4 linked regions of the Homo sapiens genome follow. The protein of the gene in region 3 purifies or fractionates together with the protein of the main gene of each other region. This does not show direct contact. Each region holds a gene or a part of one and is shown on either strand. Other genes may lie near its edges.

Region 1 (3,500 bases), on a different chromosome or scaffold from region 3:
ACTGCAGCCTTCAACTCCTGGGCTCAAGCAAATCCCCCACCTCGGCCTCCTAAGTAGTTGGGACCAACGTGTGTGCCCCCACACCTGGCTTGGAGCCTTGTTTCAGCCCATTTTCTCCTTCCCTCGGCTATCGTCATCCTTCATGCCTGCATGCCTCAGTTAGGGGTGTGTTCTCAGCATTTGTCCTCATCTCTACCTCCTCATCTGAAATCCAGTGTTTTGGGGGGTAAGGTTTTATTGAGGTGTAATTTATATACAGCACAGTTGTACAATTTTAAGTATACAATTTGATGAGGTTGAGCAAACGTATACAGTTGTGTAACCAGCACCACAATCATGATATGGGACGTTTCCATGACCCAAAAATGTCCTCATGCCCCTGTGCATTCAGTGGTCTCCCCTCTCCCCTTGGTAACCACTATAGTTTTGCTGTAGATTTTCCTCTTTAAGGATTTCATATGGAATTTATATTATGTGGTCTTTTGTCTCTGCTTTATTTCGCTTAGCATATGCTTTTGAGTTTATCCATATTGTTGTGTGAATCAGTAGTTTGTTCCTTTTTATTGGTGAGTAATATTCCATTTGTATTAGTCTGCTAGGGTTGCCATACAAAGTATGGCAGGAGGGCTTAAATGACAGAAATGTATTTCCTCACAGTTCCAGAGGCAAGAAATCTGAAATCAAGGTGTCAGCAGGGTTGATTTCTTCTGAGGCTTCTCCTTGGCTTGTAGATGGCCACCTTTTCCCCGCATCTTCACATGGTCTTACCTCTTCTATGTCTGTGTCCAAATTTCCTCTTCTTATGAGGACACCAGTTATATTGGATCAAGGCCCACTGCATTGAATTCATTTTAACTGAATTACTTCTTTAAAGAACCTCTCTCCAGGCCGGGTGCAGTGGCTCACGCCTGTAACCCCAGCATTTTGGGAGGCTGAGGTGGGTGGAACACTTGAGGTCAGGAGTTCAAGACCAGCCGGCCAACATGGTGAAACCCTGTCTCTACTAAAAATACAAAAATTTAGCTGGGCGTTAGTTCTCGCCTGTAGTCCTAGCTACTCAGGAGGCTGAGGCAGGAGAATCTCTTGAACCCAGGAGGCAGAGGTTGCAGTGAGCTGAGATTGCACCACTGTACTCCAGCCTGGGTGACAGAGTGAGACCATGTCTCAAAAAAAAAAAAAAAAAAAAAAAACCTCTCTCGGAGTTACCAAGCATTGAGACATAAGAATTTGAGGTGAGGGGTATACATTTCATCCCATTGCTCCATTGGATGGAGCAAACTGCTCCGCAGTTTGCTTATCCATTCACCAGCCGATGGACATTTAGGTTACTCATAGGCTTTTGCTATTACAAATAAACCCGCTATAAATATTTGAGTACACGTATGGCTGTGCATTTTAATTTCTCTTGCATAAATACCTAGGTGTGAAATTGCTGAGCCATATAGTAAATATATGTTTGTCAATTTTATTGATCTTTTCAAAAAACAATTTTTTTGTTTTATTGATTTTTCTCTATTTTCTGTTTTCCATTTCAGAGATTTCTGATCCTTATTATCTCCTTGGTGTCTTAAGATTGAAACTTACTTTACTTACTTTAGTGTCTTAAGATTGAAACATAGATATTGATTTGATACCTTTTTTCCTCATATAGCATTCAGCGTTGTAAATTTCTAAGCACTGCCTCAACTATATCCTACAACTTTTGTTATGTCACATTTTCACTTTTATTCAGCTCAAAATAGCTTCTAATTTCCCTAGTGATGTATTCTTCAGCCATATGTTATTTCAGAATGTGTTGTTTCATTTCCTAATATTTAGGGCATTTTCCAGATAACTTTCTATTATGGATTTCTGATTTAATTCTATTGTCATCAAAGAATGAACTTTGTGTGATTTAAAGTCTTTCAAGTCTACCAAGATTTATTTTATTTCCCAGAGTGTGGTTTATCTTGGTAAATGTTCCACATGCCCTTGAAAAAATATGTATTATGCCTTTGTTGGTTAGAGTGTTATGTAAATATCAGTTAAGTCAAGTTGAATGATGGTGTTTTTTAATTGTTCTGTCAGTTTTTGCATTATGTATTTTGAAGCTCTTTTAGTAGATACATTTATATTTAGGATTGCTATGAGTTCTTAATGAATTAACTGTTTTATCATTATGTAATATTCTCTTTGTCTCTGATAGTCCTCTCTCTGAAATCTACTTTGCTATTACTATAGGCACTTGAGCTTTTTTTTTTTAAATTAGTATTTGCAGGGTTTATCTTTTTCTATCCTATCACTTTTAACCTATCTTTGTATGTAAAGTGGGTTTCTGTAGCTTGCTTTTTGAATTCAGTTTGACAATCTCCACCTTTTAATTGGAGTGTTTAAACTATTCGCATTTAGTGTAATTATTAATATGGTTGGATTTACATGTCCTTTTTTTTTTTTTCTTTTGACAGAGTTTGGCTCTTGTCACCCAGGCTGGAGTGCAGTGGCGCAATCTTGGCTCACTGCAACCTCCACCTCTTGGGTTCAAGCAATTCTCCTGACCTCAGGTGATCTGCCACCTTGGCCTCCCAAGTGCTGGGATTATAGGCGTGAGCCACCCCACCCGGCCTTGCTATTAGTTTTCTATGTCTTATGTCTTTTTTGTTTCTCATTTCCTCCCTTAATGACTTCTTTTGAGGTAAACACATACTGTTCTAATATACTCTTAATTCCTCTGATTTCATTAATATTTTTCACCTTTTAGTTATTTGATTGGATGCTGGACATTGTGAATTTTACTTTGTTGAGTAGGTTTTTGGAATTCCTTGTTTCTGGGATTTGTTCTGGGATGCAGTGAAATTACTTGGCATCTATTTGATCCTTTCAAGGATCAAAGCAAGTCTGGAGTTGGGTGGTGGCCAGGATGCCCAGGCCCAGGGGGAGCAGGCAGGAAGGATTGGAAGGCAGTCAGGTGAGGACTGCAGGTAGCCTCTCTTAGTCCCTTGGGGCACAGAACTTGCTGATATATACAAGGTTTCCTTCCTTAGAGTGTAATAACAGTTTCTAGTCTGGGATCGGATCCTTTTGCGTTACTGAGCTTTGAATAGAGTTGCTGGGATTTTTGTACTATTAATATTCTCTCAAATTTTTAAGTTTGAAATTCTTGACTCCAGGAAGCATAGCATCTCACCCAGGACTTAGAGCCTGATACAACAGCCATGTACAGCCCCTGGGTCCCACCGCAAGTTGCCAGGGCCCTGTGGTGTCTATTCAGACCTGCTTTCCCAATCTAGAAGGTGGTGTGGGAATGCATGCCAATTCCCAGCCCCCCTCCCTGCCCCTGGTCCCCGAATTCAGTCATGGTCAGTGTCTACAGCACAACCTTCTGGCATGGGAGAAGGTCACCTGAGGTTAACCCTTTACTTGTAGGGTCCTTAATCAATCTCTGGCTCCTTTGGAACCATGGACACAGAATCAGTCCTGGGTGAGAACCTATATGTCATTTCAGGAATCGGTGAGTTTCAAGG
Region 2 (4,052 bases), on a different chromosome or scaffold from region 3:
TTTTGGAAATGACTGTTGCCTTCACTTATTTCTAACATTTCTTTTTTCTTTTCTTTTTTTTTCTTTCTTTTCTTTTTTTTTTTTTTTTACATGGAGTCTCACTCTGTTTCCCAGGCTGGAGTGCGGTAGCGTGATCTTGGCTCACTGAAACCTCCACCTCCTGAGTTCAAGCGATTCTCCTGCCTCAGCCTCCCAAGCAGCTGGGACCAGAGGCGTGTGCCAGCAGACCCAGCTAATTTTTGTATTTTTACAAAAATACAAAAATTTTATTTTTGGGGTGTGCTGGGGTGTGCCAGCAGACCCCAGCAGAGATGGGGTTTCACCATGTTGGCCAGGCTGGTCTTGAATTCCTGACCTCAGGTGATCCACCGGCCTCGGCCTCCCAAAGTGCTGGGATTACAGGCATGAGCCACTGTGCCTGGCACCTCTTTCCTTCTTGTTTGAACATCTTTTACAGATCTTGATTATATTCTACAACATAATGGGTGGTCTCTGGCACACTGCCTTTTTGCTATTATTATTGATACTTTATGAAGACCAAGTGTGCTAAGACATTGTACATTTGCGGAGCCACCCATTCTCCCCTTTAACATCTTTGTTTCATGTCACTCTTCACTGCATTGCATGTCATCAGTTTCCCATTCTGCAAGTATTTCTTCAATCAGTTTCCCTTTATTATTAGCCATACGAGATCCAAAAATCCCTTAGCAGGTTAATGTGGACTGGGTGCAGTGGCTCATGCCTGTAATCCCAGCACTTTAGGAGGCCAAGGTGGGTAGATCACCTGAGGCCAGGAATTTGACACTAGCCTGGCCAACCTGGTGAAACCCTGTCTCTCCTAAAAAATACAAAAATTAGCTGGGTGTGGTGGCATGTGTCTGTGGTCCCAGCTACTTGGGAGGCTGAGGCAGGAGAAAGGCTTGAACCCGGGAGGTGGAGGTTGTGGTAAGCCAAGATCATACCATTGCACTCCAGCCTGGGCAACAGAGCAAAATTCTATCTAAAAAAAAAAAGAAAGAAAGAAAAGAAAAGAAAATAGTAGGGCTTTTTCATTGTTCAGCTGAAACCTCTCCAGCTCCTCATAGCTGAATTTCTGGGAACGTTCCCTCCTCTGTTCATTGATATTCTTGTCCCTGACCCCAGCCCCCGCAAGGCCCCTTCTGTGTACACTTGACTGAATTTTATGGGCCTCGTGGATATGCATGGGCTTATCTCCAGACATCATAAATTAACCACAGCTGATCTCATCCAGACTGCCTTCTGACAGTAACCACTGATGAAGAACCCTCCTTTGAGAAGCTGCCTTTGTGTCCTACAGACAGGCTGGGGCCAAAGCCATTCAACCAATCCCCAGATAATCCAGAGCTCTTGGGAGCAGAACCTTAAAGAGAGATCGTGGAGAGAGCCAGGGCCCAGAAGAACTCTCTCAAAGGTACATTTTGACCCGGAAACTTGGGAGGGTGTGACAAGTGGGGTCTTAGGGCCCCCATAGCAAAGAAGGAAGGTCTAGAGCATCATGGTGCACTAGAAATATAATACGAGCCACATAAATCATTGTAAGTTTTATAGCAGAAGCACTTTAAAAAACTAAGAAGAGTGCAATTTATTTTAATAACATGTTCTGTGGAATCCATGTATATCTAAACGATTATCATTTCAACACATAATGAATACAAATAATTATTAATGAGATACTTTACATTTTTTCCCTATACTTTGTCTTCAGAATCAATAGGTATCTTACACTTACAACATAGAACAATTTGAACTTTCCCATTTCAAGTGCTCAAGAACCAGAAGTAGCTGGTGGCTGCCATATTGGTTCTGGAAGGGGACAGCCAGAGAAAGTAGGGAAGGTGGTCTTGTGGGTGAGGTCCTTTCTCTGTTAATAAACTCAAAGAAATGGGTTAAACCAGATTCTATGAATGATGTAATGCTAAGGAAGGTTGCCTGAATCCCAAGCTTAGGGAAGAAACTGAAGAAAAGGGAACAAGTTACCTGTTAAGAGACTGGGTGAATTACTTATTAAATTCTTGGTAGTGGATTAAAATCTTCATGGTTCTGTCAATGTTTGGACCATTTCTCCAAGGTAAGGCTTACTCTCCCTATTTTAGGAAAAAGAAAGTTGAGATTCAAAAAGAGCTTACTGAGATCCTGTTGCTTCTCCCTCCAAAGGCAGCCTAAATATGTAATAGAAGAGGTGTGTGTGTGCGCCTAGAGGTGGAGGGAAGGCTTACACTGAAGTTTTGTTTCAGATCTGGGGTCATTTGCTGCTGAGAAGCAGAAGGACTCATTATTTTGAAGGTACACTATACTTCAGTGACTTTACAGCCCCATGTGTGCCTGTAATTATTCACAATGGCTTCTATAGTTTAGGTTTTATCTCCACTAAACAGATAGGAATACTGACTTGGAGTTCAGAGAGGTGAAATGACCTTCCCAAGGCCACCCAGTTGAAACATGGGAGAGGTAGGATTTGAACCCTGGTTGGTTGGGTGCTATTATCTTCTCACCGCTCCACTGTGAAATTATTTTGGCTTAAGAGAACGAGAGGGCAGAGGCTGTGGGCTAAGCTGCCTCTTGGGCACCCTATCAGGGCCTTAATACTACCAGTTGTATCTGCCATTATTTTCCATGTTGGGTGGTAGATATTGGTGCCAATGTCTTATCTATAGCTGTTTGAAGACAGCTATCATATCTGGTTCCTCTTGGTACCCACCACATTTCCTTATAGATGATAGGGTTCTTGAATACTCATTGGATGGGTGGTGGATTGAAGGAAGATTAAAGAATGAAAGGAAGGATGGGTGGATAGAAGAATGGATGAACAGTGAAAGAATGGATGGATGGAAGGATGGATGAGAAGTGGATGAATAAACTGAAGGATGGATGAAACGATTTATCTCTGATTGTTGAAGGCAGAAATCATGTATGGTTCCTCTTGGTACTTGACACAGTTTCTTATGGATGGTGGGTTTCTTAAATACTTATTTGATGAATGATTGATGGATGGATGATAAGAGGATGGATTCAATGAATAATGGATGAATAGAAGGATAAATGAATGGACAGATGAGTGGATAGATAGATGGCTGGTGAAAGATGGGCAAAAGGATGGGAGAATTGATAGACAGATGGAAGAATGGGTGGAAGGATGAATGGGTGGATGAATTGATGGATGGATGTATGGATGATGGAAGAAGATAGATGAAAAGATGGATAGATGGAGGAATGGATGTAAGAATGGGTGGAAGGATACATGGGTGGATGGGTGGATGGATGGATGATGAAAGAAGAGTTGGTAAAGGGATGGTTGATGGATGGATGGATGAGGGAATATTAACAATGAAGAGTATCATTAAGCAGAGAAAAAATTTCTCAGAAGGTAATATTTTCAGGAAAGTTTGAAAGCCAATAAATAACAAAAGTAAAAGAAGAGAATTAGAACATTCTCAAAATGTTTGCTTAATTAATTAATTACTGCCGGTCTAGCATGGTGAATGAATGTTATCATCATCATCATCGTCATCATTAATGGCCAACATTTATTGTGAGTTATCTCTATAGCACGCATTGTCTTAAGCATTTTGTATCTTTCATCTAATTCAATCCTCCCAACAACTCTATGAAGTAGAACTGTTTATTAGCATCCCCATTTTATAGAGGGGTAAGCTGTGAAGTACCTTATTAAATGTCACTCTGCTAGGCACCACTGAAACATCCACACAGGTTTTTAATTACTGGCATGCCAGTGGAATTGGAATGCCAACACCAAGAGGCCCCGGCACAGCGCTTTGCTCTATAGATGTTCAATAAATTTGGTAAGTCAATAACTACCTCATAAAATTAATCCATTCCTAAGACAGCCATCTCATTGTTGCAGATTTTTCATTTTGTGATTTTAAACTGCCTCCTATTGCTTTACTCAGGGTGTTCTATCTTTTTTAAAAACCATTTTAACTCTGCATGTTTTCATGTGAGCATATGTGCATGCATATACCTGTATATGTGCACATATGATGTGTGTATATTACACATGCCTGTATACATAT
Region 3 (3,500 bases):
ACACATATTTACTGGCTTTAAAAGGTCTAAAAGAACTTTCACCAAACAGTACAATGGATCTCACTGCATGATGGGCTTATGTATGGATTATTACTTTTTTAATAAACAGTTAAAGCTTTGCAATAAGGAAAAAAAAATTGCATAATCCTAAATCTTTAATTGTCTTATCAATACAGGTTGTCTCTTTCATTAAAGACTGAGAGTTTAAAATGCAGAATTCACCCAGAGAAGACAGCCTTGATTCTAAGTAGTTGGGAGGGTTGCAGGAATAGAGAAAATACAGCCCACTATGCAAAAGCCTTCACAGGAGACAGACAACATGAAATTGGCTGAACCAGAGGCTCCAGTTCTAATGACTTGGCCAAGCCTCAAGGGTTCCACACACATTCCTTCCAGGCTGGTATCTGACCTACCCTGTGATCAATCTTTGGTCCCCTCAATAATTCCCTCTCCTTCCTACAGCCTTTCTCCTTCCATATTATCTCCACAACCTAGCGTATTCCTACTGCTCAGAAAAGCTACTGTGGCATTTTGATGGTGGGGAGAGTCAAAGCCTCCTGCAGCTGTGACCTCCAATGAACAGAAAGGTATGAGGGTCATCACAGCAAAGAATGTTAGGCTCACTGACACAATACATTCCACAGATACTCCACACTTGTAGCCAAGTACCTTCGAATGGGAAGTCTCTCCCATGTTTAGAGACAGTTCATTTAGGAGCTGAGAGATTTCTCTCTATAACCATAATTGAGTTCTCTCTTTCGGCACAAGGGCTGTGTACTTTAATGCTCATGCCATGACTGGATATATAAAGACAAGAAGAAAGTCTGGAAATGCTCTGAAACTGGCTGTAGTTAGGGAAAGGTCCCACAACTTTCAAAGAGATTTGGGACCCTCAACAATGAAAAAAGCATTTCCTGCAGAAGTAAACTAACTCACTAATTGTTTTTCTTCTCCAAGATGCCTTCTGATATCCATATATTACTACTAGCATTAGTACTTCTTATAAATGAAAACAGTGGGCTGGGTATGGTGGCTCATGTCTGTAATCCCAGCACCTTGGGAGCCTTAGGCAAATGGATCACTTGAGCCTAGAAGTTGGAGATCAGCCTGGGCAGACCCCAACGCTACGAAAATTTTTTTAAAAATTAGCCTTGCACATTGGCATGTGCCCATAGTCCCAGCTACTCAGGAGGCTGAGGTCAGAATGCAGCTTGAGCCCGAGAGGTCAAGGCTGCAGTGAGCTGTGATCATGCCACTGCATTCCAGTCTGGATGACAGCCAGATCCTGTCTCAAATTAATAAAAAAAGAAAAAGTGAATAGTGTCAAATACTGTGATGTTAAGATAAAAATATTTTAGGCAAGAATATGTTTCCTGCCATGGAGTTGACTCTTACTTCTTAAAATGTACTACAGTTTCTGATCACCAGTAACTCTCCAATGACAAATGTGCATTAAAACATTGTTTTATTTCAAAGTTTCCTCCTCCCCAGAAGGCCAATATTTAGTCTAGGCTTAAGAGAGGAGACCCAAAGTACCTCCACCCGGGTTCCAAACCAAATGAAGGTTTGATGGGCTGGAGACTGAGCATTCTCAGGCATTTACCTGTCGTGGATACAGGTATATACTCTGTATCTGTGAGCCAATGAGAAGCAAGAATGCTGAGGCCCTTTTGCCCCACAACAGCCTCAGACTATGGTACACTTACTGAATACGTCCCTCCCACAATTACTAAAACTATGAGACCTAGAAATACCAGAGGGAGAGGGAGACAGGACCTAGGGGCTGAGACTTCAGTGATGCTGTGAGAAGTCACATGGCCAGGTAAAGAATACATAGTACCCAAAAGGTCTGAAGTTTAGTTGTCACTCTGCCATTGATCTGCTATGAGCTCCAGAAAAACCCACAGCCTTTCTGGGTTCAGTGTTTTCATTTGGTAGCATAACATAAAGGAATTATACCGGAATGCTCTGATGTTTCCTCAGGTCTCAAATGTTATTTAGTCCAGCCAACCTCATCCCACTCTTATTATATTGATCAAAATACTGTTCATAGCATAATTTCACAATAAATAAATTAATAAGCAAATTGTTTCATTGCTTCATGTTCTAAGAAGATTAAAAAAAAAAAGGTGAGAAAGTCAATTCCGTACTTTTGGAAATGAATATTTGGAAGTTTGGAAGTACTTCAGTAATTTTTCTAGGCTACAACTAAGCACAATACCAACAAAACATAGAGACTCAAATCAAAATGCATTAGGTTTCCAGAACTTGGAGAATTACAGTTTCTTTTTAATATCTTCTCCTTATAAAGCCTGTCAAACACTAAAATTCTGTTGACCATTTTTTATTTTTCTATATTAAAAGAATGCTGAGGTACAAATGTATGAGAAAATTAATATTTGGTTTTTATTTATTTGTATTTTATTTATTTTCTTTTTTGTAAATGGTCTCAGATACTTTCTTTTGCTAAATGGTGTGATACAGATAAATCCAATAAATATAATAATTTACTTAATTCATTATCATCAGGAAGGCCTGGAATTAAAATTCTTGATTTTGAGTTTATAACGGTTTCATTTCACTTATTACCTCTACATATGATCATTTTAAATGTCAGACTAATTGAACTACTGAATTGAATGCAGGCTATTAGCATTAAATGAGACTCATGCAATAGAATATAAAGGTATTACACTGTCCCTATTTTGTGCACTGTTTAATAATCTTAGGTACTTAGAATTTTTAGATGTGTTTCTAATAAATATTTTTGTAGATACGTCTTGACACAAGTGTTATAAATGTTTCTTACAGATATAAAGATCATTTCAAAGTTTACTCTCATAGATTTCTGATACGTGTAAATTCCAATGTAGCTCATAACCATCCAAATATTTCAAGTCTCAGAAATGCAGATTACAATAGTCACTGTTACCCTGAGATTTTCAAAGCTGATTTTCTACCAGTGATCAGTGGGGCCATACATATATTTCTACTGCAAATATTCTGGAAGGCTCTGCTCTCTGGAATTCCCATTCCACACTGATCCAATAAAATCTGACTTTACAGATTTTCAACACGTACCATGAACCAATCCCTCCTCCTCGGCTGCTCTCCAACTCAATAATGGCAGTCACATTCATTACATTTAGTGAGTCAGACTTTCCGCCGTGCCTAAGTCACTCCCAGCTAGTATGGCAGGTGTGTGATGAGTGACGTTAGCTGTTTCAGGAGTCTAAAAAACCGTGTAAGTTTAAAGCAGCCATGGTAATGCCCTACTGGCCTGAAAGAGTAAACCCACCCTCCATTAATGCCTCACATATGACTTCTGTGTTGGAGAGAAAAGAATGCAGAACATGTTCTTTTAAAAAATAAAGCAAAGGCTTATTATAATCAGAGGATTTGTTCAAAATATTTATAAGTCACTTTAAATAACACAGTTGTTTCCTATTTTTGCCATTGGAAATAGTGGGATGTTAAGGTAGAAAAAATAAGAAGAAATT
Region 4 (3,500 bases), on a different chromosome or scaffold from region 3:
TTCCCCCGCTGGAGGAAATTCTGCTGTCCCCATTTGCAGATGGACAAAATGAGGTCCAGAGAGGGTCAGGGCCTTGTCCAAGGTCACCGATGTAGGAAGCAGCAGAGCCAGGACTGGAACTTCGCCCCTACTGCGGGGCTCTGGCTCTCATCATACCACCCCTGCCCGCCCGGTCCTTTCTTTCTTCTCCTTTTCATCACAGCCCTTGGCCCCGGGCCCGCTTGGCTGCCTCCTGCAATTAGCCCCTATCACTGTTCCGGATCGCAGCCCTGGGCCCTACAGAGACAAAGTCCCCTGGGCCCCTCGTGGCAGGGGGTGGAGTGTGGGTGTAGGTGGGGGGCCTTTGTGGGAGTGGCCGGTGCCAGGCTGAGCTGGTCTGGCCTGTTTCTCCCCTCCTGGAGGCCTCTGGGGGCCTGGAGGTGCTGAGTGGGCAGAAGTGTTGGGCCCAGGAGGGAAGTGCCGCCTCTTCCCAGCCCCTGCCCTCACCAACCCCACTGCCCAGCCTCATCCAGCTCTTGGGCAGCTTATCAATGACCACACCCCAGGGAAGGAAGCCCCCAGGGGCTGCAGGGATGGAGCACATGGGGATGGGTCCCTTCATCTGTGGAAACCTCGGGTCCCAGCTCCTCTGGCCGGAGCTGCTGCCTGTTCTCCATCATTCAGTCATTCAACAAACATCGCTGAGCGTCCTCAGGCTGAGCCCTACACAAACTTGGTCCCAGCTCATGCCCTCCTCCAGCACCTGCGTGAGTGAGTAAAGCCCAGGGCTATTGTGAGTGGCTAATGGGTGGTGCCCAACCCCTGCCTGGGCCTGAGGGCTGAGACCCAAAGGATGAATAAGAGTTGGCTGGAGCAAGAGGGAGGGGCTTTCCAGGCAGAGGGATCTTCATATGCTAAGATCAGAGGTGGGAGGAGGGGCTGCATGAGTGTGCAGGAGAGGTGAGCAGAATAAGAAGTGAAGGGCAGCGCTTGCAGGGCTATAGGGAGTCATGGTGGGCTGCGGACTCCACAGTGGGTGGTGGCAACATTAGGTCTGCACTTTAGAAAGAGCCTCCTGCTACCCCTGGAAGGTGGATAGAGGTGCAGGAGGGTGGCAGGGCCAGGCTGGGACCCTGTGGAGGAGCTCGGGCTGATGCTAGGAGTCCTGGGGCTGGGGTCCTCAAGGTGGGGGATGGGGTAATTATTAGTGATCCCCAGGTGGAGGGGGCAAGGGACTAAACCTGAACTCCACATGGCATGAGTGTCCTCTCCTGTCCAAAAGGTCTGGCTAGCCGGCCACCAGCTCCATGTCTCCTAAGGAGAGGATTCAAGCACAGTCCAGATTATGGCAACCAGGCAGGGACCCACATGGCAAATTTTTTTTTTTTTTTTTTTTGAGACGGAGTTTTGCTCCTGTTGCCCAGGCTGGAGTGCAATGGCGCGATCTTGGCTCACCGCAATCTCTGCCTCCTGGGTTTAAGCGATTCTCCTGCCTGGTATTACAGGCATGCACCACCATGCCTGGCTAATTTTGTATTTTTAGTAGAGATGGGGTTTCTCCATGTTGGTCAGGCTGGTCTCGAACTCCCGACCTCAGGTGATCCACCTGCCTCAGCCTCCCAAAGTGTTGCGATTACAGGCTTGAGCCACTGCGCCCGGCCAACAATTTTTTTTAAGAGACAAAGTGTCACTCTATTGCCCAGGCTGTAGTGCAGTGGCGTGAATATAGCTCATTACAGCCTCAAACTCCTGAGCTGAAACGATCCTCATCTCAGCCTCCCAAGTAGCTGTGACTACAGGCAAGCACCAATGGTAGAGATTTTAATTAAGGAAGAAGAAGGAAAAATACTGTTTTTTTTCTCTAGCTCCTCCCTGGTAAAAAGAAGGACAGCTCTGGCCATTGTGGACCATCACAGGCCCACCTCTCCCGGCCTAGTCTGGGGGCTGGGCATGTGAGGGCTGTTGTCCACGTGTGTGTGTGTGAGGGCAGATGGCTCTGTGCGTGCCTGTATAGATATGTGTGAGAAGATGGCCAACAGTACCCTGCTGGGCCTGCCTTCACCTGTTTGTGTACATGTGAGAAGTGTGTGTGTGTGTACACATGTGCCTGCATGTGCATGGATGTACATGAATGAGAGCACTGTGGGGCCGTGTGTGGACATGCCCAGAGATCACAGCTTCAGCCTATATGCGTCCATGCGAGAGGGCATGCGTGTGTGTGTGCATGTGCAGGTGTGTCAGTGTGTGTGCAAGTGTGAACGCATTTGCAGGGAGAAGGTTTGACTGTGACTGTGTGCCCCTCTGGGCCTGCTTTGGTCTGTCTATGTCCATGTGACAGAGCCGATGAGTGTGTGTATGTGAATGTGTGAGGGCACAGAGTCCTGTATCTGCAGGTATGGACTTGTGTGCAGGGAGGACGGTCATTTCTGTGATTAAGTGTCCTGCTGGATTTGCCTTAGCCTGTCTGTGTGCGTTTGTGTGCATGTATGGAGCTCTGTGTTTATGTGGATCTGTGTGTGCACACGGAGGCCCGTGTGTCCATGCGTTGTGTGTACATATGCCTATGTGTGTGTGCACGTGCTCACTGCAGTGCGTATTTGCCCTGTGTGCCTGTGTGTGCATGTGTGTGCGTGTATCTGTGTGTTTGTGTGGATCTGTGTGCATATGCATGAACATGTGTGTCCATGCATTGTGTGTACATATGCCTGTGTGTGTCTGTGTGTACGTGCTCACTGCCATGCATATTTGCTCCTGTGTGCCTGTGTGTGCATGTGTGTGCGTGCATTTGCGTGTGCAGGCACTGTGTGTTTGCGAGCATCTGCTCACTGGCATAGTGTATTCATTCTGTGTCCAGGGCCCCTTTCCTGTCTCCAGAGCTTCCGACTGTCCTCTGCCCAGATTGTCCTCTTCCTCCCTCCCTCCTTCACTCACGAAGCCCCTGGGCCAGCCTGGTGAGTGTCACGTAGGCTCCAAGGAGCCTCTGAACCCCCTTAACCTGTACACCAAGTTTTATGCGTATTTCTGGAGAGGAGCCACGATTCACCGCAATTTTCTAAAGGGGCTTATGCCCCCACTCTCCATATTCAACCCTAACAGGTTCAAAACCACACCTTTGGTTTTTTTTGTTTTGAGACAGAGTTTCGCTCTGCTGCCCAGGCTGGAGTGCAGTGGCACGATCTGGGCTCACTGCAACCTCTGCCTCCCGGGTTCAAACAATTCTCCTGCTTCAGCCTCCTAAGTAGCTGGGATTACAGGCGCACACCACCACGCCCAGCTAATTTTTGTATTTTTAGTAGAGACGAGGTTTTGCCTTGTTGCCCAGGCTGGTCTCAAACTCCTGATCTTCAAGTGATCCACCTGCCTTGGCCTGCCAACGTGCTGGGATTACAGGCGTAAGCCACTGCACCCGACCCTTTTTTTTAATTAAAAAAAATTTTTTTATAGAGATGGGGTTCTCACCGTGTTGCCCAGGCTGGTCTTGAACTCTTGGCCTCAAGCAATCCTCCTTGCCTCAGCCTCCA

The links. Proteins that work in one complex are often made in the same cells at the same time.
Region 1: the proteins of FBN2 (region 3) and ZNF74 purify together in Homo sapiens (co-immunoprecipitation; one large-scale study listed by IntAct). This does not show direct contact.
Region 2: the proteins of FBN2 (region 3) and ELSPBP1 purify together in Homo sapiens (co-immunoprecipitation; one large-scale study listed by IntAct). This does not show direct contact.
Region 4: the proteins of FBN2 (region 3) and EMID1 purify together in Homo sapiens (co-immunoprecipitation; one large-scale study listed by IntAct). This does not show direct contact.

The regions. Positions count from the first base shown.
Region 1 is NC_000022.11:20,397,151-20,400,650, forward strand, and holds part of ZNF74 (zinc finger protein 74), read left to right. Parts: intron 1-2,444; exon of another isoform or gene 2,445-2,540; intron 2,541-3,481; coding exon 3,482-3,500. UniProt on the Homo sapiens protein: May play a role in RNA metabolism.
Region 2 is NC_000019.10:47,993,380-47,997,431, forward strand, and holds the start of ELSPBP1 (epididymal sperm-binding protein 1 precursor), read left to right. Parts: upstream 1-1,252; 5' UTR 1,253-1,432; intron 1,433-4,052.
Region 3 is NC_000005.10:128,531,746-128,535,245, forward strand, and holds part of FBN2 (fibrillin-2 precursor), read right to left. Parts: intron 1-3,500.
Region 4 is NC_000022.11:29,208,896-29,212,395, forward strand, and holds part of EMID1 (EMI domain-containing protein 1 isoform 1 precursor), read left to right. Parts: intron 1-3,500.